Regions from separate parts of the Homo sapiens genome. Here region 2 is linked to region 1. A link means that fine-mapping ties the variant in region 1 to the expression of a gene that starts in the linked region. Tissue or cell type: breast. Region 1 holds a variant in brackets; the other region holds the start of a gene. All regions are shown on one strand. Distances are from middle to middle.

Region 1 (14,752 bases):
CTCTTGAGGCCTCTTGGTTTCCTTCCAGGGTGGGCACACACAGCCTTGGGGTCCTCAGCCCCAGATGTCTCTGTGAGAGCCGGTCAGCTCCCGTCCATGGCCTGGAACCAGCCTTGCCACTGCTGAGAGCCTGGGGGTGGGGGAGGGTGGGCGGGGGGGCGGTGTCCTGCCATCACCTGGTCCCTCCTCGAACCCTTGGACCATGTGTCTCCCCTGCCGGCCCTGAGTCCACAGGTGTCCTGGGCATCCTAGGTGAGGGGTCAGAGGATTAGGTTGCTTTTTTTTTCTTTGAGACAGGGTCTCACTGTGTCAGCCAGGAGGCTGGAGTGCAGCGGCTCGAACATGGCTCACTGCAGCCTCCACCTCCCAGGCTCAAGGGATCCTCCTGCCTAAGCTCCCCTGACCCCCGCCAAATAGTTGATACTACAGGCACCTGCCACTACACCTGGCTAATTTTTGTATTTTTAGTAGGGATGGGTTTTTGCTATGTTGTCCAGGCTGGTCTTGAACTCTTAAGCTCATGTGATCTACCCACCTCGGCCTCCCAAAGTGCCAGGATTACAGGCGTGAGCCACTGCGCCCGGCCAGGATGCTTTGATTACCAGTTGTCTTTCTCAGGAATTACGTATGGAAATTGCAAAACAAGAATTAATCGCTCATGCCCGGGAAGCAGCATCCAGGGTCCTGAGTGCACTGAGTGGTGAGTGGCCCCAAGTCCTCCCTTCTGCAGTTCCGGGGGGCCTTGCTGGGGCCTCCTTGTGACAGTGCGCCCCTTACTGTCCCAATGTAGACCGGCAGATGTCAGAACGGATGGCCTTGGATGCCCGGAAGCGTGAGCAGTTTCAGAGGCTGAAAGAACAATTTGTGAAGGACCAGGAGGTGGGTAGGACCTGTCCCTGCGGGGTCACGCCTGTCAGTTCTGATTTCACAGGCCAGGCTCTATGTGTTTTATAGCGACGCCAGGCGGCCAGGCAGGAGGAGCTGGATGATGACTTCAGCTACGCCCGTGAACTCCGAGACAGGGAGAGAAGGCTGAAGTCCCTGGAGGAGGAGCTGGAGAGGAAGGCGAGGTAGGGCAGCCCGGGCTCCAGGCCCAGGGGTGCAGTGCGGCAGGGGCCCCATAGCTCTGGCTTAATCTTACTGATGATTTTACTTTTTGTTTTGAAAACCTTCAAACATACATTAAGGTAGAAAGACCAATATGCTGAACCCAGAGTGGCTGTGGGCGTTCTGCCTTATCCAGGCATCCTTAGCTGTTCTGCGCGTTGTCTTGTGGTGGTTTGTATGGATTAGGGTCCAGGCGAGGCCTGCGTACTGTTTGGGGTCCTGTCTCTTTATTTATCTTCTTTCTGAACATCCTTCCTTATTTATTTTTAAGTCTGTTATTGGTCTGACAGAGACAGGGCGTTTTTTTTTTTTTTTTTTTTTTTGGAAACAGAGTCTTGCTCTGTCACCCAGGCTGGAGTGCAGTGGCACAATCTCGGCTCACTGTAACCTCCGCCTCCCAGGTTCAAGCAATTCTCCTGCCTCAGCCTCCTGAGTAGCTGGGGTTACAGGCATCCGCCACCACATCCAGCTAGTTTTTTGTATTTTTAGTACAGACGGGGTTTAACCATGTTGGCCAGGCTGGTCTCAAACTCCTGACCTCAGGTGATCCACCTGCCTCGGCCTCCCAAAGTGCTGGGATTACAGGCGCGAGCCACCGCGCTCGGCTGAGACAGGGCATTTGTCCAGCACAGCATCTGCGTCTGTCTCCCTGTGCTGTTATCAACCTGTCCTGTGCTGTCATCAGGCTGTCCCAGGCTGAGTAGTGCTGGATCCTTCAAGGGGCTGTTTGGGGTTTTGGAGAGAGCCCCTCACGGGAGGGGCTGGCCGCTTCCTGCTCAGCCCCACGCGATGCTGTAGGTCCCAACCTTAGATCTCTTTATGGAGCGAGTGAGGGATGTGTGTGGAGGGGTGCGCGTGCCTGTGTGCACGTGTGTCCGTGTATGCATTTATGCATGAGTACGTGTTCATGCATGTATGTCAGTCGATACTGTCCTGTTAACACATGGAGAAAACCAGGCCTAGACACTACGTCTCTGGCCTGTGGCAGCCAAATTAGAGCTGGCCAGTCCAGGTTTGAGCCCAGTTGCCTGCTGGTGAGAAGCTCAAAATCATGGGGCACGATCGGTGAAGCAGGCTTTGAATTCAGCAAATAAAGCGTTTGTGTTGGTTTTGCTTCATGTGCTTTTTTGCATTAGTTTTCAGTTCTCAGGTTTGTACCTGTAGAAGGGGAAGAGGCCTAACTTCTTAGAGGCCTGGGGCCCTCGGCCTCCTGCTCACCCCTTGCTTCAGGCCACACAGGATCTCATTCTGGTATTTGTCCAGCAGATGTTGCTGAGCCCTGGCTGGACGCTGACTCACCAGGGTCTCCCAGCCTGGCAGGTAGAAGGGCCTGCCTGGTGCTGCCCTGTAGGTGCTGTGAGGGCCCAGAGCTATCAGCCCCTGGTAGGGGGAGACGGGGGCGGGGGCCCACTGGGGCCTCTGTTATGGAGAACCATCCTGGCCTGAGGGGTGCCAGGTAGATGGGGTGGGGTGACTCTTGTGGCCGTGTCCTCTCTGGTGTGTGGCTTCAGGCAGGCACTGGTCGACCACTACAGCAAGCTCTCTGCAGAGGCAGCTCGTCGGGAGCAGAAGGCACTGTGGAGAATCCAGAGGCACCGACTGGAGAGTGCACGGCTTCGTTTTCTCTTAGAAGATGAGAAACACATTCAGGTATGTCTGCGGCTTCAGATGGCAGCTCTTCCCCTGGGCTTTGGGGGTCTGGAAACCCCCTGAGACTGCACACAAACCTACATGCTCTTCTAGGAGAGGGCTGGTGGCTTTCGCGTTTGCGGCAGAGCACTCTCTCTCCCCGTGTGCCACCAAATTGCACAGATACAGGTGGTGAGGAGCTCGTGGTTTTGGAGTACTTTTTGCAGGCCCAGCGTCCCACTGGAGCCCAGCACAAGCCTTGTCTGGTTCAGTGCACATGGCTGCCATGGGCGGTAGGGGCTGTGGCTTTGTGTGGGGTAGGGCTGTGCTTGACTCCGGCTTGGCCAGTCACCCCTCTGGCTTGAATTTCAGGAGATGCTGAAAGCAGTGTCTGAGGCTCACCAGCCCCAGGAGCCGCCAGACGTCCTCTTGAGCGTGCACCCCCAGGTAAGCGGCAGAGTGGAACCCAGGGTGCCCTATGGTTTTCCCATAGCCCTCGGCACCTGGTGTTGGTCATGGCTGCAGAGCTGAACTTGGGGGACAGTTCGAGGGCTGGGGGGTCCTGAGACCAGACTGGGTCTGATGTCACCTGTGTTTCAGGTCACGTCTCCGGGCCCTGAGCACCCAGAGGGAGGCCAAGGCTGTGATTCTGGGTCTGCAGAGCAACACTCGCCTGCCTGGGATGGCTGGAACAGGCCAGGCCTGCTGACCCCACAGCCCCTTAAGCCTCTAGCAGTGGGGGCTGGTGGCAGGGGGCTGCAGCAGGCGGAGGGGGCCAGACCCTTCTCTGACAGCCTCAGCATTGGAGACTTCCTACCTGTGGGCCCAGGGGCTGAGCCGTCCGTGCAGACTGGCATGGTCCCTCTCCTGGAGGTGGCGCTGCAGACCATTAACTTGGACCTGCCCCCCTCAGCTCCTGGGGAGGCACCCGCAGCAGCCAGCACTCAGCCCTCCAGGCCACAGGAGTACGACTTTAGTACTGTCCTGAGGCCAGCTGTGGCCACCTCACCTGCACCAGGGCCCCTGCAGGCTGCAGAGTGCAGCTTGGGCAGCTCAGGGCTACAGCTGTGGGAGGACAGTTGTGGGAAGATGGATGCCTGTGGCTCCGCCTCGCGGGAGACTCTGCTCCCCTCACACCCACCCAGGCGTGCTGCTCTGGAGGAGGGGAGCAGCCAGCCCACAGAGCGGCTCTTTGGGCAGGTGTCAGGGGGTGGTCTTCCCACAGGGGACTACGCTTCTGAAATAGCTCCCACCCGGCCACGGTGGAACACCCACGGGCACGTGTCTGACGCCAGCATCAGGGTCGGGGAGAATGTGTCAGATGTGGCTCCCACCCAGCCACGGTGGAACACCCACGGACACGTATCCAATGCCAGCATCAGCTTAGGGGAGTCTGTGTCAGATGTGGCTCCCACTCGGCCACGGTGGAACATCCATGGACATGTGTCCAACGCCAGCATCAGGGTCGGGGAGAATGTGTCAGATGTGGCTCCCACCAGGCCACGGTGGAATACCCACGGGCACGTGTCCAACGCCAGCATCAGGGTTGGGGAGAACGTGTCGGACGTGGCTCCCACCCGGCCACGGTGGAACACCCATGGACACGTGTCCGATGCCAGCATCAGCTTGGGGGAGTCTGTGTCAGACATGGCTCCCGCCCGGCCACGGTGGAACACCCATGGACACGTGTCTGATGCCAGCATCAGCTTGGGGGAGTCTGTGTCAGACATGGCTCCCACCCGGCCACGGTGGAACACCCACGGACATGTGTCTGACACCAGCATCAGGGTTGGGGAGAACGTATCGGACGTGGCTCCCATCCGGTCACGGTGCAACACCCATGGACACGTGTCCGACGCCAGCATCAGCTTGGGGGAGCCTGTGTCGGATGTGGTTTCCACCCGGCCACGGTGGAACACCCATGTACCCATCCCTCCGCCCCACATGGTGCTGGGGGCTCTCTCACCAGAAGCTGAGCCCAACACACCCAGGCCCCAACAGAGCCCCCCTGGCCACACGTCCCAGTCAGCGCTCAGCCTGGGAGCACAGAGCACTGTGCTGGACTGTGGGCCACGGCTGCCTGTAGAAGTGGGGCCATCTCTGTCCTCCCCCAGCTCGGGCTGCGGGGAGGGGAGCATCAGCGTGGGGGAGAACGTGTCAGACGTGGCTCCCACCCAACCATGGTGGCCCAACACCCCGGGAGACAGTGTCTCTGAAGAACTAGGTCAGAGTAGGGTGGCTGGTGGTCAGGAGTGGGACTGTGGGACGCACAGAGCCTGGGAGGTAGGCGGGCAGTGGGGTTGGTGGCATGTGAAGTTCCCCTCAGGCCTCCTTGTCAGCCAGGACCTGGGCTGCTGTGGGGGACATGGGAGGGGCTGCTTGAGCCAGGGCCGGCTCGGCTCTGTACCCGCCACAGGCACTCGGCCCTGATGCCCTCGTGTCCACTTGTGTCCACACAGGCCCTGGGAGGAGCGGGGACACTGAGGACCTCTCTCCAAATTGGCCTCTCAACTCACAGGTTAGGTGGATGCAGCCTGGGGGTCCCACAGCAGGCAGGGAGGGCTCTGTCCCTCTAGGTTGTCACGCGGGTGGGTCCCACATGCGATTTTCCTTTTTTTGGCACAAGCTGGTTGTGGGGACAGCGTGCAGTGGGGAGGTGGTTCTGAGGCTGGTGTTTTGTTAGGAAGACACAGCTGCCCAGAGCAGCCCAGGCCGTGGTGAGGAGGCGGAGGCATCGGCGGCGGAGGCTCAGGGTGGGGAGCAGGCCTACCTGGCAGGCCTGGCAGGGCAGTACCACTTGGAGCGGTACCCGGACAGTTACGAGTCCATGTGTGAGTGCAGCAGTTGCTGTTGGCAGGGAGCCCTGGGCTGGCTGGTTCCCAGCACGTGCTCCACCTCCTGTGGGTTGGGGCGGAGCCCTGGGCTAGCCAGTTCCCAGCACGTGCTCCATCTCCTGTGGATGGGGGCGGAGCCCTGGGCTGGCCGGTTCCCAGCACGTGCGTGCTCCATCTCCCGCAGCCGAGCCGCCCATTGCTCATCTTTTGCGCCCCGTGCTTCCCCGGGCCTTCGCCTTCCCCGTGGACCCCCAGGTCCAGTCTGCCGCTGATGAGACTGCTGTGCAGCTGAGCGAGTTGCTGACGCTGCCCGTGCTCATGAAGCGCTCCATCACGGCACCGCTGGCCGCCCAGTGAGTGCCCCTGCCCCTGCGCCAGTCTGCCCACCCAGCCCGTCCTGGCCCGCCCTGACTCCAGCTCCCTCCTGCCAGCATCTCCTTGGTGAACAAGGCCGCTGTCGACTACTTCTTCGTGGAGCTGCACCTGGAGGCGCACTATGAGGCACTGCGGCACTTCCTGCTGATGGAGGACGGCGAGTTCGCCCAGTCCCTCAGCGACCTGCTCTTTGAGAAGGTGGCCTCCGGACACGGGGTGGGGCCAGTGGTAGAGGGGAGGCCGTGGGAAAAGAGAGACTGGCTGCACGCCCACAGCCCCCTGCTGCTCTGGCACAGCCCCATGGGGTGCCGGCGAGTGCCAGGCATGTGCTTGGGACTCCTGGGGACGGTGGTCCCTTTTCTGCCTAGCTTGGAGCTGGGCAAACGCCCGGAGAGCTGCTCAACCCGCTGGTGCTGAACTCTGTGCTGAGCAAGGCCCTGCAGTGCAGCCTGCATGGGGACACCCCGCACGCCTCCAACCTCTCCCTCGCTCTCAAGTACCTGCCCGAGGTGTTTGCCCCCAACGCCCCGGATGTGCTGAGCTGCCTGGAGCTCAGGTACAAGGTCAGCAGCAGCCCTGGCCGCGGGGGATGGGACAGGGGCCTGCCTGCCTGTGGGATGCCTGCTGAGCCACGCCTCCTGGCAGGTGGACTGGCCTCTCAACATTGTCATCACCGAGGGCTGCGTGAGCAAGTACAGCGGCGTCTTCTCCTTCCTGCTGCAGCTGAAGCTCATGATGTGGGCGCTCAAGGACGTCTGCTTCCACCTCAAGCGCACAGGTGAGGCCCCGCTGGAGCCCGGCGCCCCGCACCCCTGGCTGGAGGCTGCGCTCACCTCTGCCCTCTGCCTTCTGCCCTCCGCCAGCCCTGCTGAGCCACATGGCCGGCTCTGTGCAGTTCCGTCAGCTGCAGCTGTTCAAGCACGAGATGCAGCATTTCGTGAAGGTCATCCAGGGCTACATCGCCAACCAGATCCTGCACGTCACCTGGTGCGAGTTCAGGGCCAGGTTGGCCACCGTGGGCGACCTGGAGGAGATCCAGCGTGCGCACGCAGAGTACCTGCACAAGGCCGTCTTCAGGTGAGGCCTGGGCAGCGGCTGCGTCCCTGTGGTCACGGCTCAGCCCACCCAGCAGCACTGCTTCCCCCCAGGGGCCTGCTCACGGAGAAGGCGGCGCCCGTCATGAACGTCATCCACAGCATCTTCAGCCTCGTGCTCAAGTTCCGCAGCCAGCTCATCTCCCAGGCCTGGGGGCCCCCTGGGGGCCCGCGGGGTGCAGAGCACCCCAACTTTGCACTCATGCAGCAGTCCTACAACACCTTCAAGTACTACTCCCACTTTCTCTTCAAAGGTGAGGCCCACCCTGGCTGGGAGGGCTGCGGGGGGGCCAGGGCGGGGCTCACACTGTGGGCAAAAGCCTGAGCTGCTCGCTGGTCCCCAGTGGTGACCAAGCTGGTGAACCGCGGCTACCAGCCCCACCTGGAGGACTTTCTGCTGCGCATCAACTTCAACAACTACTACCAGGACGCCTGAGGCTGCTCTGCGGGGGACGTGCACAATAAAGGTGTTCTCGGACCCTGTCTGCAGC[T/G]CTCTCTCCTGGGTGGGGGCTGAGGACAGGGCAGGGTGGGGGAACAATGACCACAGAGACAGACTCGAGGGAGTTGCTGGTTTATTTAGGAGCCTGGGTCCAGCCCCCAGGGACCAGGCTGCACTGCTGAGCCGGCCTCAGACAGAGACGGGTCAGGTCCTGACTGGATGTCTCTGCCATCATGGAAAGACGGGTGTGCATGGGCCAGGGCAGAATCCCCCAGTGTATAGGGCAGCCTGGCATCATCTTGGCCACTCAGCAGCACATGGGGGCCTCGGGAGACTCCAGGGGTGTGGAGCGTGCCGAGGCCGTTACGAAGATCATGTCACGCACAGTTCTGCTGCCCAGAGCGGGGGCTTACTGCTGTAGGAGCGCTGCCTGCCGTCCGCCCCGTCGGCTTCCGTGGCCTCGGCGTCTGTGGCGGCCCCCGCCTCGCAGTGGTAAGGGGTCTCCAGTAGTTTCAGCACCCGCCGCACCTGGAGGATCAGGAGGGTGAGAGGGGTCTGGGGCCGACCCCCCTCCCAGGGACCACAGGGACAGGCGTGTGCTTGCCTCTGAGAAGTCCCCGCGCTCGGCAGCCTCGATGGCATTCTGCGCGATGTAGTTCCTCAGCACGTACTTCGGGTTGTTGGCGTGCATCACGCGCACGTGCTCAGCCTGCCAGGCGGCAGCGTCCCCAGCGCCTTCCAGGTCCTTGTCCAGCCGGGCTCTGGAATGACATCCGGGCTCTGGAGTCACAGCCGGGCTGGACTTTTTCCAGCACGCGACCCGCCGTCCCCCGGTGACCATGGACGCAGGGCTCACCTGTACGCCTGTAGCCAGTCAGCCCAGTGGCCCTGGTTCCTGCTCTGCAGCTCTGCCGCACTCAGCTGCTCCAGCCGAGACTGCTGCTCCACACGCTCCAGCTCCCTGGCGATGCCTGCCCGGGTGCCCATAAGCGCGAACAGCTGCGGGTTTGACTGCGCCAGCATCAGCATCATGGATAGCTGCCTGTGGAGAGGCCAGGGTGTCTGGGAGGTAGCCCCTGACCGTGTCCCTGCCCTGCAGGCAGCTGCTCCGCCTGCCCCAGCCCGCTCTCACGGCTCACCTAGAGTCCAAGGGCCCAAGCAGCCCGGTCCCCGAGGTCCCTGGAACCCCACTGGCAGGGATGGACCCCAGTGGGCACACACCAGGCATGCCCATGCTCGGCCAAGGCCCTTTGTGGGCCGAGGGGCAGGACCACTCTGCTGCCCAGCTTTCTGCTGGAGAGTCTCCACCTCCCGAGTTTAATGCTTGTGGGATGGGCACTGCTGTTAGCACTTCCCTCATTTCCAGAAGGGTCCAGGTGGGCAGGGGCCACGCCTTCTCCAGTGGAGGGGGTTTATGCTCAGCAGGGCCTGCTGGCCGGTGCTCCCAGCCAACCCCACTGGTCTTGTTTTTTAAGTTAAAGCAACAATATTTTCCACGTCTCATCCTGCACGTGGGCGGGACTCTTCAGACAGGGCAGCCCTTCCCTTTGGAAGATGGTGTGGGAAAGCTTGACCTCTGGGAGCCCATTCTCCCTAGAAACCCAGAGGCTTTCTCTGAAGCCCACCCACAGCAGAGACCACTGTCTGCCCCCACACCTGTGTCAGCCTCGCCACTCTCTACTCTGTGACCAACCGGCCCCAGCATCGCAGAGATGCCCTGAAGCCCTGACTGAATCTGTCCCTGGGAGCGGAGCAGCCACCTGGGCCCCAGCCAGCTCTGTCTCTAGCTTCTCCCCCAGCCTCTGTTTCTGATTATGCTTCCTTTTCTGGAAACAAATCCAAAGAAGTAGGAACTGAGTACCCACCGGGGATCCATCTGGGGCCGGAAGGCCAGCCTCAGCTCCTCCAGGGAGGCACACTGCTCCATCAGCCTGGCCAGGAATTCCGCCAGGCCTGGCGACTCTAGCTCCACTGGGAAGGAGCTCAGCAAGTAGAAGGTGTTTGTGAAGTCGGCACCTGGAACACAGGCTGCTCAGGGAGCTGGAAGCAGAAGGCCCAGGGTCCCTGTCCTGGTGCCACACAGACCCCCCCCCCCCCACCCCCCTGGCACAGGTGCTGCATGGACCCACCCACATGCTCCACCACCGCCCCCCACCGCCAGCACGGATCCACACGCTCCCTGACCCACACCCTCCACCTGGCACAGTGCCATACAGACCCACACCCTCCCCCAGCACAGGTGCCACACGGACCCACACCTGGCACGCATGCCACAGAGACCCACACGGACCCAAATGCTGCCCCCAGCACAGGTGCCACACAAGCCCCGCTCAGCATTGGTCCTGGGACTCCTGAGCCCTCCACACCCCACTCCTCAGCCTCCACCCATCCACCGCCCAGGCAGCTGCCATTTGCTCACCCTCCAAGTCACCTGTGAAGTGGCCTAATACTGAGAAGGCAGAGGCTGCTGCCCGGCCCTCACATCCTCACAGTCACAACTGCCTGCTTTGGGAGCTAGCGAGTGTTGAGAAGCTGCTGTAACCCGCCTGCAAAAGGCCCAACTTGTGACAGACACTGCGATCCTCCCCCTGACTCTGGAAAACACTGTCTGAAACCACAGTGACCCTAAGACTGTCTTAAAAACAAAATGAGAAGGGAGTCAAAGCAACGTACTGCAAAAAAGTCGACTACACACAAAGGTAGCAAGGGAGAACGTGAGCGACCAGAAACATGGCAGAAGCTCCCCCTCAGTAACTGCTTTGAAAGCGAATGGACTGATCGCTCCAACAAAAGGCAGATTGGCAAAGTGGGTGAAAAGACGATTTCCATGTTGTCACCACACGATCTGCAAGACGTTCAAAGACACGAACAGGCTGGAAGTGAAAGGATGAAGAAACCCAGGCAAAGAGTAACCTAAAGAGAGCTGAGGCGACTCTTAAACTCACAGCAGATAAGTTTTCTATTTTTTGAGACGGAGTCTTGCTCTGTTGCCGGGGCTGGAGTGCAGTGGCGCAATCTCGGCTCACTGCAACCTCCGCCTCCTGGGTTCCAGCAATTCTCCTACCTCAGCCTCCCGAGTAGCTGGGATTACAGGCATCCGCCACCATGCCTGGCTAATTTTTGTTTTTTGAGATGGAGTCTTGCTCTTGTTGCCTAGGCTGGAGTGCAGTGGCGTGATCTCAGCTCACTGCAACCTCCGCCTCTCCTGCCTCAGTCTCCTGAGTAGCTGAGATTACAGGCACCCACCACCATGCCTGGCTAATCTTTGTATTTTTAGTAGAGATGGAGTTTCACCATGTTGGCCAAACTGGTCTCGAACTCTTGACCTCAGGTGATCTGCCTGCCTCGGCCTCCCAAAGTGTTGGGATTACAGGCATGAGCCACCATGCCCGGCCAGAGAAGATTTTAAATAAAAAATTGTCAGAAGGGCCGGGAAAGGTGCTCACCCCTGTAATCCCAGCTACTTGGTAGGCTGAGGCAGGAGGATAACTAGAGCACAAGAAGTGGAGGCTGCAGTGAGCCGCAGCTGTGCCACTGCACTCCAGCCTGGGCAACAAAGTGAGACACATCCACCCTCAACAAAAAGTCGTTACAAGAGACAGCATTATATATGGATAAAAGAGTCAATTCATCAATAAAAATGTAAAAATTATAAACATGCACCCAATAAGAAAGCCCAAAAATGTAAACGTTGGCAGAATGGAAGGGACAGACAACAAACAGTTCTATCTATAGTAAGAGTTGGAGACTTAAACACACCACTTAATAATGGATAGACCATCTAGGGTTGGGAGCGGTGGCTCATGCCTGTAATCCCAGCACTTTGGGAGGCCGAGGCAGGTGGATCACGAGGTCAGGCGATCAAGACCATCCTGGCTAACACGGTGAAACCCCGTCTCTACTAAAAATACAAAAAAATTACCCGGGCGTGGTGGCAGGCGCCTGTAGTCCCAGCTACTCGGGAGGCTGAGGCAGGAAAATGCCGTGAACCTGGGAGGTGGAGCTTGCAGTGAGCTGAGATCGCGCCACTGCACTCCAGCCTGGGTGACAGAGCAAGACTCCGTCTCAAAAAACAAAAAAACCATCCAGACAGAAGATCAATGAGAAATGGAAGACCTGAACAACAGCCTAAACCAACAAGACCAAACAGGCACATACACGGAACCCTCCACCCAGCAGAAGAGAGCACACCGTCTTCTCCAGGGCACACGGGTACAGGACGCTCTGCCCAGCAAAAGAGAGCACACCGTCTTCTCCAGGGCACACAGAAAGTTCTCCAAGATAAGCCACAAAACAAGTTGTAATAAACCTCAAAAGGCTGACATCTCTAGTCACAATGGAATGAAGCTAGAAATCACTTAAAAACACAACACACTGGCTGGGCGCGGCGGCTCATCCCCAGAATCCCAGCACTTTGGGAGGCTGAGGCAGATCACTTGCGATCAGGTGTTGGAGACCAGCCTGGCCAACATGGTGAAGCCCCATCTCTCCTAACAGTACAAAAATTAGCTAGGTGTGGTGGAGCATGCCAGTAGTCCCAGCTACTTGGGAGTCTGAAGGAGGAGAACCACTTGAGCCTGGGAGGCGGAGGTTGCAGTGAGCCAAGATCATGCCACTGCACTCCAGCTTGGGCGACAGAGTAAGACTCCGTCTAAAAACCAAAAAAACCCACAACATACCAAAATTGATGGACACAGCAAAAGCAGTGACCAGAAAGACATGCACAGTGTAAATGGCTACACTGAAGAAGATCTCCAATCAGTTACCTCAACTCACGCCTAAGGAACTGGAGAAAGAAGAGCCAAGATTAGAGGGAGACAATAGACTGAAGAAACAGGCACACGCTGCGTAACTCCACTTACACGAAGATTAGAGGGAGACAATAGACTGAAGAAACAGGCACACGCTGCGTAACTCCACTTAAACGAAGATTAGAGGGAGACAACAGACTGAAGAAACAGGCGCACGCTGCGTAACTCCACTTACACGAAGATTAGAGGGAGACAACAGACTGAAGAAACAGGCACACGCTGTGTAACTCCACTTACATGAAGGGTTTAGAGCAGTCAGGTTCACAGACTCGGAGCGGAGTGGTTGCTACCAGGGGCTGCAGGGAGGGGAATGGGGAGCTGGTAACCGGCTCACACAGGGTTTGGGTGGCGGATGTGAACAAGCTCCAGGGCTCGGCTGTACAGCACTGCTCCTGCGTCAGCTGTGATGTGCGGTGCCCTCCACAATTTAAGAGGATAGATCCATGTTGTGTTCCTACCACAATGAAATTGTAAAAAACTGCTACGAACAATTATATGCCAAAATTACCTACAAGACATGGACAAACTACCTGACACAGAAAATTCCTGGAAACATAAATTACCAAAACTGACTCAAGAAGAAAAGAAAATCTAAATTGAGGTAAGGCAAGCAAGGAGACTGATCAGTAATCAAAATTTTTCCAACAAAGAAAAGCCCAGGACCAGATGGCTTCACTGGTGATTTCTACCAAATACTCTTACGAACAAATGGCAATCCTTCTCAAACTTTGAAGGAAAAAAATGGAAGATGTGCGCATACCTCCTAACTCACTCTGAGGCCAGCACCACCTTGACATCAAAGCCAAACAGACACTAAAGAAAAAGCAGAACTCTAAGCTAGTATCCCTTACGCATACAGATGCAAAAATCCTCAAAATACTCGCAACATTCAGCATATTAAAATAATTATACAGCATATGGCTGGGTGCGGTGGCTCACGCCTATAATCCCAGTACTTTGGGCGGCTGAGGTGGGCAGATCACCTGAGGTCGGGAGTTCAAGACCAGCCTGACCAACACGGCGAAACCCTGTCTCTACTAAAAATACAAAATTAGCCGGGTGTGGTGGCGGGTGCCTGTAATCCCAGCTACTTGAGAGACTGAGGCAGGAGAATCACTTGAACCCAGGAGGTGGAGGTTGCAGTGAGCCAAGATCGTGCCACTGCACTCCAGCCTGGGCAACAAGAGTGAAACTCCGTCTCAAAAAATATTAAAAATAATAATCATATAGCATATTAAAAGGACCAAGTAAAATTTATCCCCAGAATGCAAGGAGATATGAATGAAATAATAAAACCACATGACCATCTTCATTGCAGGAAAAAGCATTTGATAAAATGCAATAGCTTTTCATGGTAAAAGCATTCTGAAAGAAAACTTCAGCATGGTAAAAGCCCACAGCTAACATCACACTCAATGGGTGAAACACTGAACACTTTTCCCCGAAGGTCAGGAACAAGAAAAGAATGCCCATCTCAGCTCCTTCTGTTCAACATACACGTCCTAGCTAGTGCAACCCAGTGAGTCACCCACACGACCCAGCAATCCTACCACCTGTACACCCCACGGAACTGAAAGCAGGGAGTCAGAGATCTCTGCATTCGCTTTCATGGCAGCACGGCACACAACACACAGTGCACCGTACGCAACAGCCAGAAGAGGAACACGTACGCCAGTATGTCGTGGATAAGCAAACTGCGGCCTGTCCACACAACGGGATGCTTCTCAGCCTTCAAATGGAATAAAATCCTGATACGGACCTGGGTGAACATTGAGGACCTTATGCTAAGTGAAATAAGCAGTCACTACAGAACAAGCACCGTATGACTCCACTCGCAGCAGGTCCTAGATTCACCAAATTCATAAAGACAGAGAGTAGAATGGGGGTGCCAGGGCTGGGGTGGGCCCAGGGAGTGACTGTGCACTTGGAACCTGGAAGCCAGAAGGTAAACCATCTCTAAGCACAACAGCACGGGAGGCGCCTTGCTGTGGGCACGGCTGGGTCACTCACCGGTCAGATGCATGGTCTCCAGGAGCTTGGACACCAGCGCCCCGTCTTCCTCCAGCTCCACCTGCACGAGGCCCAGCTTCCTGCGCATCTTCTGCAGGTAGTGCCTTTGGAACTCGGCGTCAAACTCCTCGGCCAGGATGGCCTCCCCCAGCTCCAGGGGCAGTTCCGGCTGCAGGGCCTCGGCCAGCTTCCGCAGGTTCCACCTGCACACCTCGGGCTGCTTGCTGTACGCGTAGCGGCCGGTGTTGTCGGAGGCATTGCACACGTGGTCGGGGTCGTACCTGCCACACGGGGCAAGAGAGCCACGCCCTGCCTGAGAGGAAGTTCCCGGGAGATGGTGCAGCCACCCTGGAGGGGAGGCCCAGGGGAAGGTCCCAAGTGGCCGTGGCTCTCTGGCCCTGTCCCACAGGGGTCCTGTCTCACCAGCCCCTGGCCAAGGCCTCCGGGATTGCC
Region 2 (10,016 bases), 31 kb after region 1:
TCAGCCACGGAATGCCAGGAGTGACTGTTTACCAAGTTAATGGCTCATGCATGTCCTGGCGGATGGATGTGTCACCAGGCAGAATCATTAAAATATCCCAAACAGGCCAGGCGCGGTGGCTCACACCTGTAATCCCAGCACTTTGGGGGGCCAAGGTGGATGGACTGCCTGAGCTCAGGAGTTCGAGACCAGCCTGGCCAACATAGACCATCCTGGTGAAACCCCATCTCTACCAAAAATACACAAATTAGCCAGGCGTGGTGGTGCACACCCGTAATCCCAGCTACTGGGGAGGCTGAGGCAGGAGAATCACTTTGAACCCGAGAGGCTGAGGTTGCAGTGAGCCGAGATCCTGTCACTGCACTCCAACCTGGGTGACAGAGGGAGACTCTGTCTCAAGAAAAAAACAAAAGTAAAAAATAAAAATGAGCCGTTGGAAACCATTCTGAGCTGTCTAGTCGTGCAAGGTATTGTGGTTTTGTCTTGAAGCGTCTGCGTCAGTCAGACACGAGCATCTGGCGAGGAAACGACGGGGCTTGTAGGATGTGCTTCAGAGGGGCCACTGCCGGGTTCTGCACTGATGCCTGCGTGCATCTGGGGTCATTTTCATGTCACTACTGCTGCCCACTTCTCAGAACTCATAAGAAAAAGGAACAATGAGCAATAAGACGCTATGTCAGGTTCCTTTCCTCTGCAAACCCTGTTGGCACACAGCCACAGCAGGCACAGACCTCGGCCCCAGCCAGGACTCACAGACCCAGCTGGGTCCTGGCCACCCACATCCAAGTTAAGATGCCTCCAAGCTTGGGTGTCCTAACCTGTGAACAGGAAGGAGCTCTCTGTGCAGTGTCTAGGAGGGCAGCTCAGGGGCTGGGGGAGCAGGGACGGCTCTGAGCAGGGGAAGAGGCCTGTCTCAGTGCAACCAGAGGCCCCATCTGAAGCTGGCCGAGAAGAGGGCAGCCCACCCTGCCCTCTTCTTGGACAGCCGGGACTTCTGGGAGAGGAACTGGCCTGGCTTGGGGTGGGTGGTGCAATGGGGCCATGGTCGGGGGAGGTCAGCTGAGACTAAGGAGACAGCTGATAAACACCAGGCTCATGTCCCCGGGGGCCTTGAGCCTCTGCAGAGGGCAAGGGGGGCCCGCTCCACAGGCAGGCTCCCCTATGGGGCCTCACAGCCTTGGCAGGGGGTCCCACTCCTTGCCACCTGGGCTTGAGTCTGGACCCAACCCTGGCCTGGGCGTCTTAGCGGTTGGCACATCCAGGAAGTGCAGCTGGCACCGGTCACAGCAGGACCAGGCCCCGGACCCTTGGGCCGCCTCCTTCCCCTTTTGTAGGTGAAAGCTCCACGATGCAACCCGACCGGAACCCACCGGAAGCTGTTGTGAGCAGCCGCCAGGCCAGCCAGCCCAGACAAGCACCCGGTCCGGGAGACGGCCGCCTCCCTGGGTCTAGCTACACACACAAGCCAGAACTCTTAGGAGCAGCGCAAGACTGCCGGGGCGCACGGGGGAAACTCACACACGGAAGTCCGGACCATTAGAGCAGCGCAAGGCTGCCGAGGCACACCGGGGAAACTCCTTAAAGAAACTCCTGTGCAGCCGGGCGGGAGGCTGCGTCGGCCCAGCCAACAGGAGGCGCCCACGTCGCCACAGCCCTTCCCCCATGGGTGTGGCAGCCCCAGGTCTGCGGTCAGCCCCCACCCTCCACCCAGCCTGGCCAGACCCGCCTCTGAGGCCGGCCTAGGGTACGCCTGTGGCCATGGACAGGGCAGGGTCTCGGTGCAGCAGCAGGCGCTGGTCCTGACCCCAGTCGTGCCATGGGGTGGGCGTGCACAGGTCTCCTGTCAGGGAGGGCAGAGAAGCTTTCCTGGGCCGGCTGCCAAGCCTTGAGCAGGACGATGTCAGCGCCACCAGAGGCAGTGCCAGCCCCCAGCCCTGGCCCCTGCAGCCTCTCAGCAGAGGCGTGCTGCCCGCAGGGAGCCAGGCGGGAAGGTCACTGAGGACCCCCCAGCACCTAAAGCCCGTGATTCTGGGGGACGTCTCTGACAGTCACTCTTACAGTCTCAACACTCTCTTTCCCTCCTCGCCAAGGCCCCTGGAGAGCTCTAGGGTGTGATTTCAGGTTACCAGCCCTCCTCCCTCTAGTCTGCTCCCAGGCAGCTGTGCTCTCAGACATTTATGGCTGGGCCCAGAGCCTCTCCCAGCTGCCTGGCGGTGAGCAAAAGGCCCTGGCCCAAAAGCCACAGATGCTGAGCCTGGACTCTGAAGTGTCTTCAGAGACAATGTCTGAAGAACCCCCACCTGGTTCCCAGCCCCACAACCTCTGGGTCCCAGCAGAGCATCACCTGGGGTCCGGCCAGCACACACTGCAGCCACCCCCTCTGGGTCCCAGCAGAGCATCACCTGGGGTCCGGCCAGCACACACTGCAGCCACCCCCTCTGGGTCCCAGCAGAGCATCACCTGGGGTCCGGCCAGCGCACGCTGCAGCCACCCCCTTTCTACCTGTCCTTTTCAGATACGCTCAGGCCCATCAGCAGAGACCAGCAGACCCTGGCTGCCCCTCCGGGGGGACAGACATCTCTCCTTCCCAAATCCCCAGTGCTGGCACTGCCCCAGGGAACCTCGCAGTGGCTTCTGGCCTTGTTACCTGCAAGGCCAACCCGCTGGGAAGCGGTGCAGCCTGGCAGGAAGCCAGACGCTTGTATCAGACCAGCTGTGCTTCACTCTCCCTGCCCCGCACGGACGTCCACCGAGCAGGACTGGGGTGGGTGCTGAACACGATTTGTGGGACATGCCTCCTGAGCATGGGTAGCCGGCAGACAGGGTCCTCAGATCTCAGACCCCAGTGCTACCCTGGGCAGGATGCTCTGGGCAGGAGCCGCCGTTTAAGGCGGGAACCTGCCTCCAGGGCCAGCATCCCACCTGCCCCACACAGGAGGCCCTCTCTGGGCTGCAAGCACAAGCCACATTCAGATGCTGCTTTAGCGGTCAGCCTCGGCCTCGAGCTTCTCTGCCGCAGCACAGTCTGTCCCGAAGGCAGAGAACGGGGTGGAGACCCACAGGGCAAGAAAAGACTTAGCAGCCCGATTTCAGGAGACCCTAGACACTGCCTCTGAAGACACTTGTTCTCCAAGCACTGTCCCTCATCTGTAAAAAGGGATATCTGGCTTTGGAAACCATGATCCTCTGTGCAGACGAAGCCTCTGAGAATTCCCAACAGCCCCAGGAGGACATCTGTTGTGCGCAAAAGCCCATCCGTTAGGGCTCTGCCTGAGGTGTGCGGCCCTAGGACACAAAATCAGAGCGGCATCTACAGTCCTTTGGCGTCAGAGACGGCTGTCTGCATCCGAAATGTCCCGCAGGGCTTCTGTCCCAGGACCTGACATCCAGTGGGAGCCTCAGACAGCGCATCCCACCTGCCTGCTCAGGTCCCACTGCTACAGACTGAACTGTGTCCCCCAAAACCCACAGGTTAGAGCCCTAACTCCCACTATGAAGGTATTAGAAGGCAGGGCCTCCAGGAGGTGATCAGGTTCGGATGAGGTCATGAGTGCATAGCCCCCATGACGGGGTTAGTACTCCTGGAAGAGACGCCACGCAGCTCTTGCTCCCCCGGGTAAGGACGCCGCGGGGGCCCGTCTACAAGCCAGGAGGCTGCATGGCAACCAGGGACCAGCACCTTTGATCTGGGATGTCCGGCCCCTAGAACTCTGAGAAAATAAATTTCTGTTAAGTTTTTTCCCAGCACCAGTGAGGCATGGTGGGAGGAGCCTACTCGCTCACAGCCCCAGCTACTCAGGAGAGGCTGAGGTAGGAGAATTGTCTGAGGTCTGGAGTTTAAGACCAGTCTGGGCAACTTAGCGAGACCTCATTTTTTTTTTATTTGAGACGGAGTGTCACTCTGTCGCCCAGGCTGGAGTGCGGTGGCGTGATCTTGGCTCACTGCAACCTCCCCCACCCTGAGGTCCAAGCGATTCTCCTGCCTCAGCCTCCCGAGTAGCTGGGATTACAGGCGTGCGCCACCACCCCCAGCTAATTTTTGTATTTTTAGTAGAGATGGGGTTTCACCATCTTGGCCAGGCTGGTGTTGAACTCCTGACCTTGTGATCCACCTGCCTCGGCCTCCCAAAGTGCTGGGGTTACAGGTGTGAGCCACTGCGCCAGGCCAAGACCTCATTTTTGTTTTTGAGACAGAGTCACACTCTGTTGCCCACGCTGGAGTGCAGTGGCATGATCTCGGCTCACTGCAAGCTCTGCCTCCCGGGTTCACGCCATTCTCCTGCCTCAGCCTCCCGAGTAGCTGGGACTACAGGCGCCTGCCACTACACCCAGCTAATTTTTTGTATTTTTTAGTAGAGACGGGGTTTCACCGTGTTAGCCAGGAAGGTCTCCATCTCCTGACCTCGTGATCTGCCCGCCTCGGCCTCCCAAAGTGCTGGGATTACAGGCGTGAACCACCACACCCAGCCCAGCCTGCTGTTTTTTAAAGTTTCCTGGTCTGTGATGCTTTGTTACAGCAGCTAGAGCTAAGACACCCATCTTATCCCCTTCACCCCACTAGAAACTGCCTCCCAGACTGCAGCCTAGCTTCCTAGTGCAGACCAAAAACTGGCTAGCACCAAATGCAGTTACCAGAAAAACCCCCATCTCTCAACCAACCCACTAGACCGGCTCAGAAAGCCCAGGTTCCAAACTGGTCAGACCTGGGGGTTGCAGAAATGACAAACTTGGAGGGACCAGGGTGTGGCCCAGAGCTTTGACCTCCCCTGCTTCCTGTTTCTGATGCCTGGCACCTTTGGCCACAGGAAACCCCTCCCGGCTTTGGCGGGACCGCTTCACGCAGGTGTGGCAGAGCTGGGAGACGGGAAACACACCTGAGCCAGAGCCCGAGGCCTCCTTGCCAGCACACCTGGCAGCCCCCAACCTCCCAGGACCTGGTCACAGTCAATGCAGAGCCCCCACACTGACCACCATGCAGGGGGCCCCACAGGCTCCTGCCACCCACCCACCCTGCCAGGCCCCCTCCTCGGACCCCACAGCATCAGGGCCTCCGGCGAGGCTGGCCAGCATCCCCACCAGTCACACTGCAAGGGCGGCGGCAGCAAGCGGGGAGCAGAGACACACAGCGCAGTGAGCCTGGCGGCCTGCACGGCCTCTTCAGGGACCTGAAAGCTAGGAGGCTTCCATCTGGAGGCTACCGAGGCTGCGGGAGTCCCCGCAGGGAGCTTAGCACCTCCACAAGTTCCTGGTTGTTTCTGGGACGCTAGTGCCCAGACAGCTCCCACTCCATCTTTCTTGTAAGAGTTTTGACAAAGACACACGGCAGCTTCATGATAGCTCAGTTAAAAAGACCTTTTAAGTTTGGGCTGCGCACAGCGGGGGACGATCTGGCGTCCACTTCGCCCATATGGGAACCCCGCTCTGCTCCAATTGAAGGGCAAAGGCACCTACAGAAGAGCGAAGCCCCAGGTTTCAGCGGGGCCGGAGGGGACAACGGGGGTCCGGGGCCTCCCGCTCGGCCTCCCCCAGCACCCCCAGAGACCCGCAGGCCTGGGCCGCCTTCCTCCACTCTCACCTCGGCCGGCTCCACCGCAGGCGGCAGGCGGGGGTGGCTGGGGCCCTCCCGACCCGCGAGGACCCTGGGACTCGAGGTCCGACCCGCGCCTTCCCGCGAGGCCGCCGCTGACCCTCCCCGCCCCAGCCCTGGGGGGCTCCGCTCCTCGGCAGCGCCGCTCCCGGCAGCGGTGGCAGGGGACGCGCGGGGCCTGCTCCCGCCCCAAACCTGACCCGGGCCTGACCCCCACGACCTGCTCCCCCGGCTCCAAAACCTGACCCGGGCCTGGCCCCCCCAACGACCTGCCACCCCGGCCCCCAAACCTGACCCGGGCCCGGCCCCCAACGACCCTGGTCTACCAGCCCCAAACCCTGAATCTGACCCTGGCCTGACCCCCACGACCTGCTCCCCCGGCCCCAAAACCTGAACCTGATCCGGGCCTGACCCCCACGACCTGCTACCCCGGCCCCAAAACCTGACCCGGGCCTGACCCCCCCCGCCCCCGGCCCCCACCCCCCGACTCGGGCTCGCTCCCCCCGCCCCCCACAGTCACCCCGCGGCCCTGACCCGGGCCCGCCCCCCGCTCGGTGCTGGGCCCCGTCCTCACGCACGCGCCGTCCGCGCCGCGCGGCGTACCGAGGCGAGGCAGCGGCGCTCCTCAGCCGGCCTCCATGCGGCGCGGGCCCTCAACGGACGGGGCGGGCTGGGGCCGCGGGGCGGGGCGGGGCGGACGGGCCGAGGGCGCCGGCGGCCGCGTGGCATGCCGGGAAGTGTAGTCCCACGCGCCTCCTGCTTGGCCCCGGCCCGCAACTTCGGACTACACTTCCCAGGGGGTAGCGCGCGGGGCCCCCGCCCCCCCCCCCCCCCCCGGCGCTCCCGGGTCCTAAGGAACATCGGCGCGCACTCAGGAGGGAGGGTTCGAGTCCCGCCGCGGTCACGGCCTTGCGAGGCGCGCCCACGTTCTCTGGTCGCAGCTCCCAAGCTGTGAAATGGGGACAATGCTCGCACGGCGTCCACAGGATGGTTTTCAGTCGAATGATATTGAAATGTAACTGTTCTGTGAGCCGTCAGTCCCGCACGAAAGGGACAGCCGATAGTGGGACGCGAGGAGCCGAGAACACGGGATCAGGGAACGCGCTGCCATGGCCTCGGCCTGGCCCCCTTCCCTCTGGGGATCGGCCTAGTCCGTCCTCCGGGGGTCGGCCCAGAGCGGTCCCCGACCCGGGACTCATGCCTCAGCGGGACCTCGGCCTTGCCGCAGGTTGGGGCACCCCGGGAAGGTCGGGCCCCAGGGGCCCCGCGGCCAGCCTAGCGGACGGAGAACCGGGACCAGGTGGGAGTCTTAGGGCGGGCCGACCCCCGGCCTCACGGACCCGGACGCTCAGTCACTTCCGATCGTCCGGAGGCCTCCAGGGGGACCCGGCTGGCCGCAGCCACGCCGACGCTAGACTCTCGCTGTGCGTGTTCGGCCCCGAGGGCAGGGGGAGACGGCCAGGCCCCACCCGCCGCGCCCGTCCTGCCCGGGCGCCCGGCCCCCTCGCTGTACCCAGCCTCTACCGGGGCGGCCGGGACCCGGCGGCCAAGTTGCTGCGCGCTGCGGGCACCGGCGCGGACGGGGGCCCGGGCGCTTCGCCGCCGCATGCAGACGACTCGCTGCCCGCAAGCTGCTGCGCCGTCCGCCTGCCCCGCTCTCCTGCAATGGTCCGGCCGCGCATCCCGGGCCCACGACTTCCTTCCTCCTCCACGACCCCGGGTTCTTGGCTGACCTGGCGCTGGCGCTGGGCTTAGTGCAGGCGTGGGCCTGGCAATGGTTTGCCTGCGGGCTGCATGCGCGGACCCCACAGCCAGCTCCCCGAAGCTCTGCGCCCACCTCTACGGCCCTGCCCCAGCCAAAGGATCAGGTTCTTGGAGCGGGGCCTGCCCTGGGGCCAGGACTCCAGTCACCGGGGGAGGGCTGCTGTGTCTTCCTGCCAGGCACTGATGAGTTAGTTGGGGAAAGGGGCCAGGTGGGGCCAGCTGGGGAACCATTTAGAAGAGGGAGGAGGGCGCACCTCTCTACTCGAGTGCCCTAGGACTAGCTCCTCTCTGGAGCCACGGGGAGGACCTCAGTGAGGGCTGCCCCACGCAGGAACCTTCAGCGAGCCTGGAAGGCTGACCCAGCAGGCCTGGGGTTGGGGGAGTCCAACGCAGCGCCCAGGCTTGGTCTGGGTCTGCCTGAGGCCGTCCACCAGGACTCCGTGCTGGGGAGCCTGCTTCCTTCCAGGCTCCAGGAAGGGAGGCCCCGGCCCCAGCCCCAGGTTCTGAGGAGCTGCCCCGGCTCGGGTGGCCTGCAGGGGTCCCCTCAGGTCCCTGGTCCTGAGTCTGCAGGTGGTCCTCCCGGGGTGGGGCGGATGGGTGAAAATGCCTGTCCACACGGCAGCAGGCTGGGCTGGCTGCCCACTGAGCATTCTTACACAAGAGGCCCCGCCCCCTCCTACAGCTTCCTGGTCCCCAAATGGCCAGGCCTGGCCTTAGAGAGGCCTCTGTCCTCCTTGGTGAAGGACACTCACTTTGGGCCCTAGGGCCTCTGGTTCACATCCTCTCCATTGATTCTCATTGTTCGCTGCCTTTGTGGTCATTCTGCCTTTCCGACCATCTCGGCCACATCCTCACAGGAGGGCAGCGGGTGGCAGTCGCCCCGGCTCCACCTCACCCATTTCTCAGTGCTGGGCTGGTGTGGAGGGAAGATCCCTGGCCTGGGGGCTGGAGGCCTGGGTTCTCAGTCTTGGCCATCTGGGATGGGTGCAAGGTCCTCCTGGAGCCCCTCCTTCTCCATGAGAGGGACGGTTCTATCCACCTGCCAGGCCTGCTTATGCTCAGGGAGGGGGAGGGGCAGGAGGGGGCACTATTTCAAACCAACGCTGGCCCCCGGGCTGCAGAACGACCCTCTGACTCACCTGGGCAAGGTGGCCAGTTGGGGAGGGGAGAGTGTCCGAGATCCCAGCCCCCGGTGGGCAGCAGACAGTGGAGAAGCAGAACTGCCCTCCGATCCGGCTGGGGTCCCCTGCAGGGCTGCACTAGGCTGTGAGGGGCGAGAAGCAGAAAAGGGGGAGATTGAGTCCTCAGGGAGCGTGCTGGGGAAACTGAGGCAGGACCTCAGCCGCAGGCCCTGGGCCACCACCCACATCTCAGGCTGGGCTTGTCTTCTAAAGTTCTGCTCCCAAGCCTGCTTTTCTCTGGGCAGGCTCTGTCCCTTCTGCCGTGGGGGGCAGGCGGGGTTGCCTTGGGAAGAGGGTCAGGTGGAGGTGGAGGACGTGCACCTGGGGTGCCAGAGCTTTTGAGGCCCTGACGCCGGGGGGCTGGCCATGTGGATGCCCTGTTCCTGGAGCAGCCAGAGGAGGGTTTCTGGAGGTGCCCTGGGGGGAGTGAGGAGGAGTCCTAGGGAGGGTGGGGGCTCTCAGGAACAGAAACAAACTGTGTGAAGCCATTTGTGCTGGGAGGGACCGTCTTGGTCCCCGGCTGGCTTTGTCCTCAAGGGGTGGACCTTGAGGAAGGGCCAAGTCCCATTCGGAGCAGAGTGACAGATCCCACAGAAGCAGGCGTTGGGGCAAGGGGAGGGAGGGAGCCCTATGGGGGAAGGCGGTTGGGGCCGGTTCAGCCCTGACCCAGTGCCAAGGGTGAGCGCCACCCTTTCAGGCCTCTGCCCGCCTGCCTCTAGGAACGTGGCACAGCTGGCAAGGACACAGCCAGAGGAACAGGTCTGGGGATAAGGTGGTGATGTTACCTGGGAGAGGTGGGAGCCAGCGTCTCACTGTAGGACGGACACCAGCTCCCCAGCACGGGCCGCGCAGAGGGAGGGCCAGCTCCAGCACAGGGCAGGGTGCTCACTTGAGGCATGAACCTCTTTCCAGACAGGAGTTGGTTTCATACCTCCTGCCAGGCTGAGGCGCACAGGCGGGGGATGGGCAGTGTGGCTGCTGCCCATGGCCCTGGTCACATTGAAGTCTCCAGGTGGCTCCACCTGAGGCCTCCTGTGTCCCCCGGCTCAGCTCAAGCCCCACCTCGGCCTAGACGTTTTCTGGGCAGCGACAGCTCCTCTCACAAGCTGGGAGGCAGGGCCTGCGGGACTCAGCACCACGCAGACCGGCTGCCCCCAAGGACTACTGGACGTCTCCCTACCTGAGCCGAGCCATGCGGGATGCCGGGTGGCTGCTGGGGCAGGGAGGACAGGTGCAGGTGGGCGGGGTGCATGTGTGAGGGTGAGGAGGGTCCCCAGCCCCAGCTGGCGAGCAGCAAGGACGCCCATGGCAAACGCTACCTCTGGAGGCCGCCATCCCTCGGGTCTCCTCAGCTGCCATGTCCTGCCCACCCTCACCACTGAGCTGGTCTGTGGGTGCAGCACCAAGGTGATGCTGTCAAGGCCCAGGGCTCAGCCCTCCCTGCACAACCAGGCTGGCCTGGGCCGGGATCTGTGACACCGGGT

Evidence for each region.
Region 2: it holds the start of TRABD, and the variant in region 1 is fine-mapped to the expression of TRABD in breast (GTEx, PIP 0.96).

What each region holds. Positions count from the first base shown.
Region 1 is chr22:50,210,459-50,225,210 of GRCh38, reverse strand. It overlaps SELENOO (selenoprotein O), which reads right to left. Exons shown (of 9, transcript NM_031454.2): 5 at 14,300-14,580; 6 at 9,344-9,494; 7 at 8,335-8,520; 8 at 8,083-8,239; 9 at 7,595-8,006. The coding sequence ends at 7,842. It overlaps TUBGCP6 (tubulin gamma complex component 6), which reads left to right. Exons shown (of 25, transcript NM_020461.4): 11 at 619-700; 12 at 791-879; 13 at 955-1,070; 14 at 2,619-2,757; 15 at 3,109-3,183; 16 at 3,337-4,960; 17 at 5,196-5,254; 18 at 5,420-5,567; 19 at 5,755-5,923; 20 at 6,002-6,143; 21 at 6,314-6,508; 22 at 6,591-6,723; 23 at 6,809-7,022; 24 at 7,094-7,293; 1 more. The coding sequence ends at 7,475. Among named protein-coding and RNA genes, the nearest start is that of SELENOO-AS1, 7.7 kb to the right of the region's middle. RefSeq lists an enhancer at 4,974-5,616. The variant T/G (reference allele first, on the strand shown) is at 7,531.
Region 2 is chr22:50,182,151-50,192,166 of GRCh38, reverse strand. TRABD (TraB domain containing) reads right to left here and starts at 6,254. Exons shown (of 10, transcript NM_001320485.2): 1 at 6,191-6,254. RefSeq lists silencers at 4,516-4,565, 5,506-5,815, 6,082-6,451, 6,722-6,821, 7,012-7,081 and 1 more and enhancers at 1,238-1,597, 1,283-1,897, 1,898-2,512, 2,728-2,787, 2,798-2,847 and 4 more.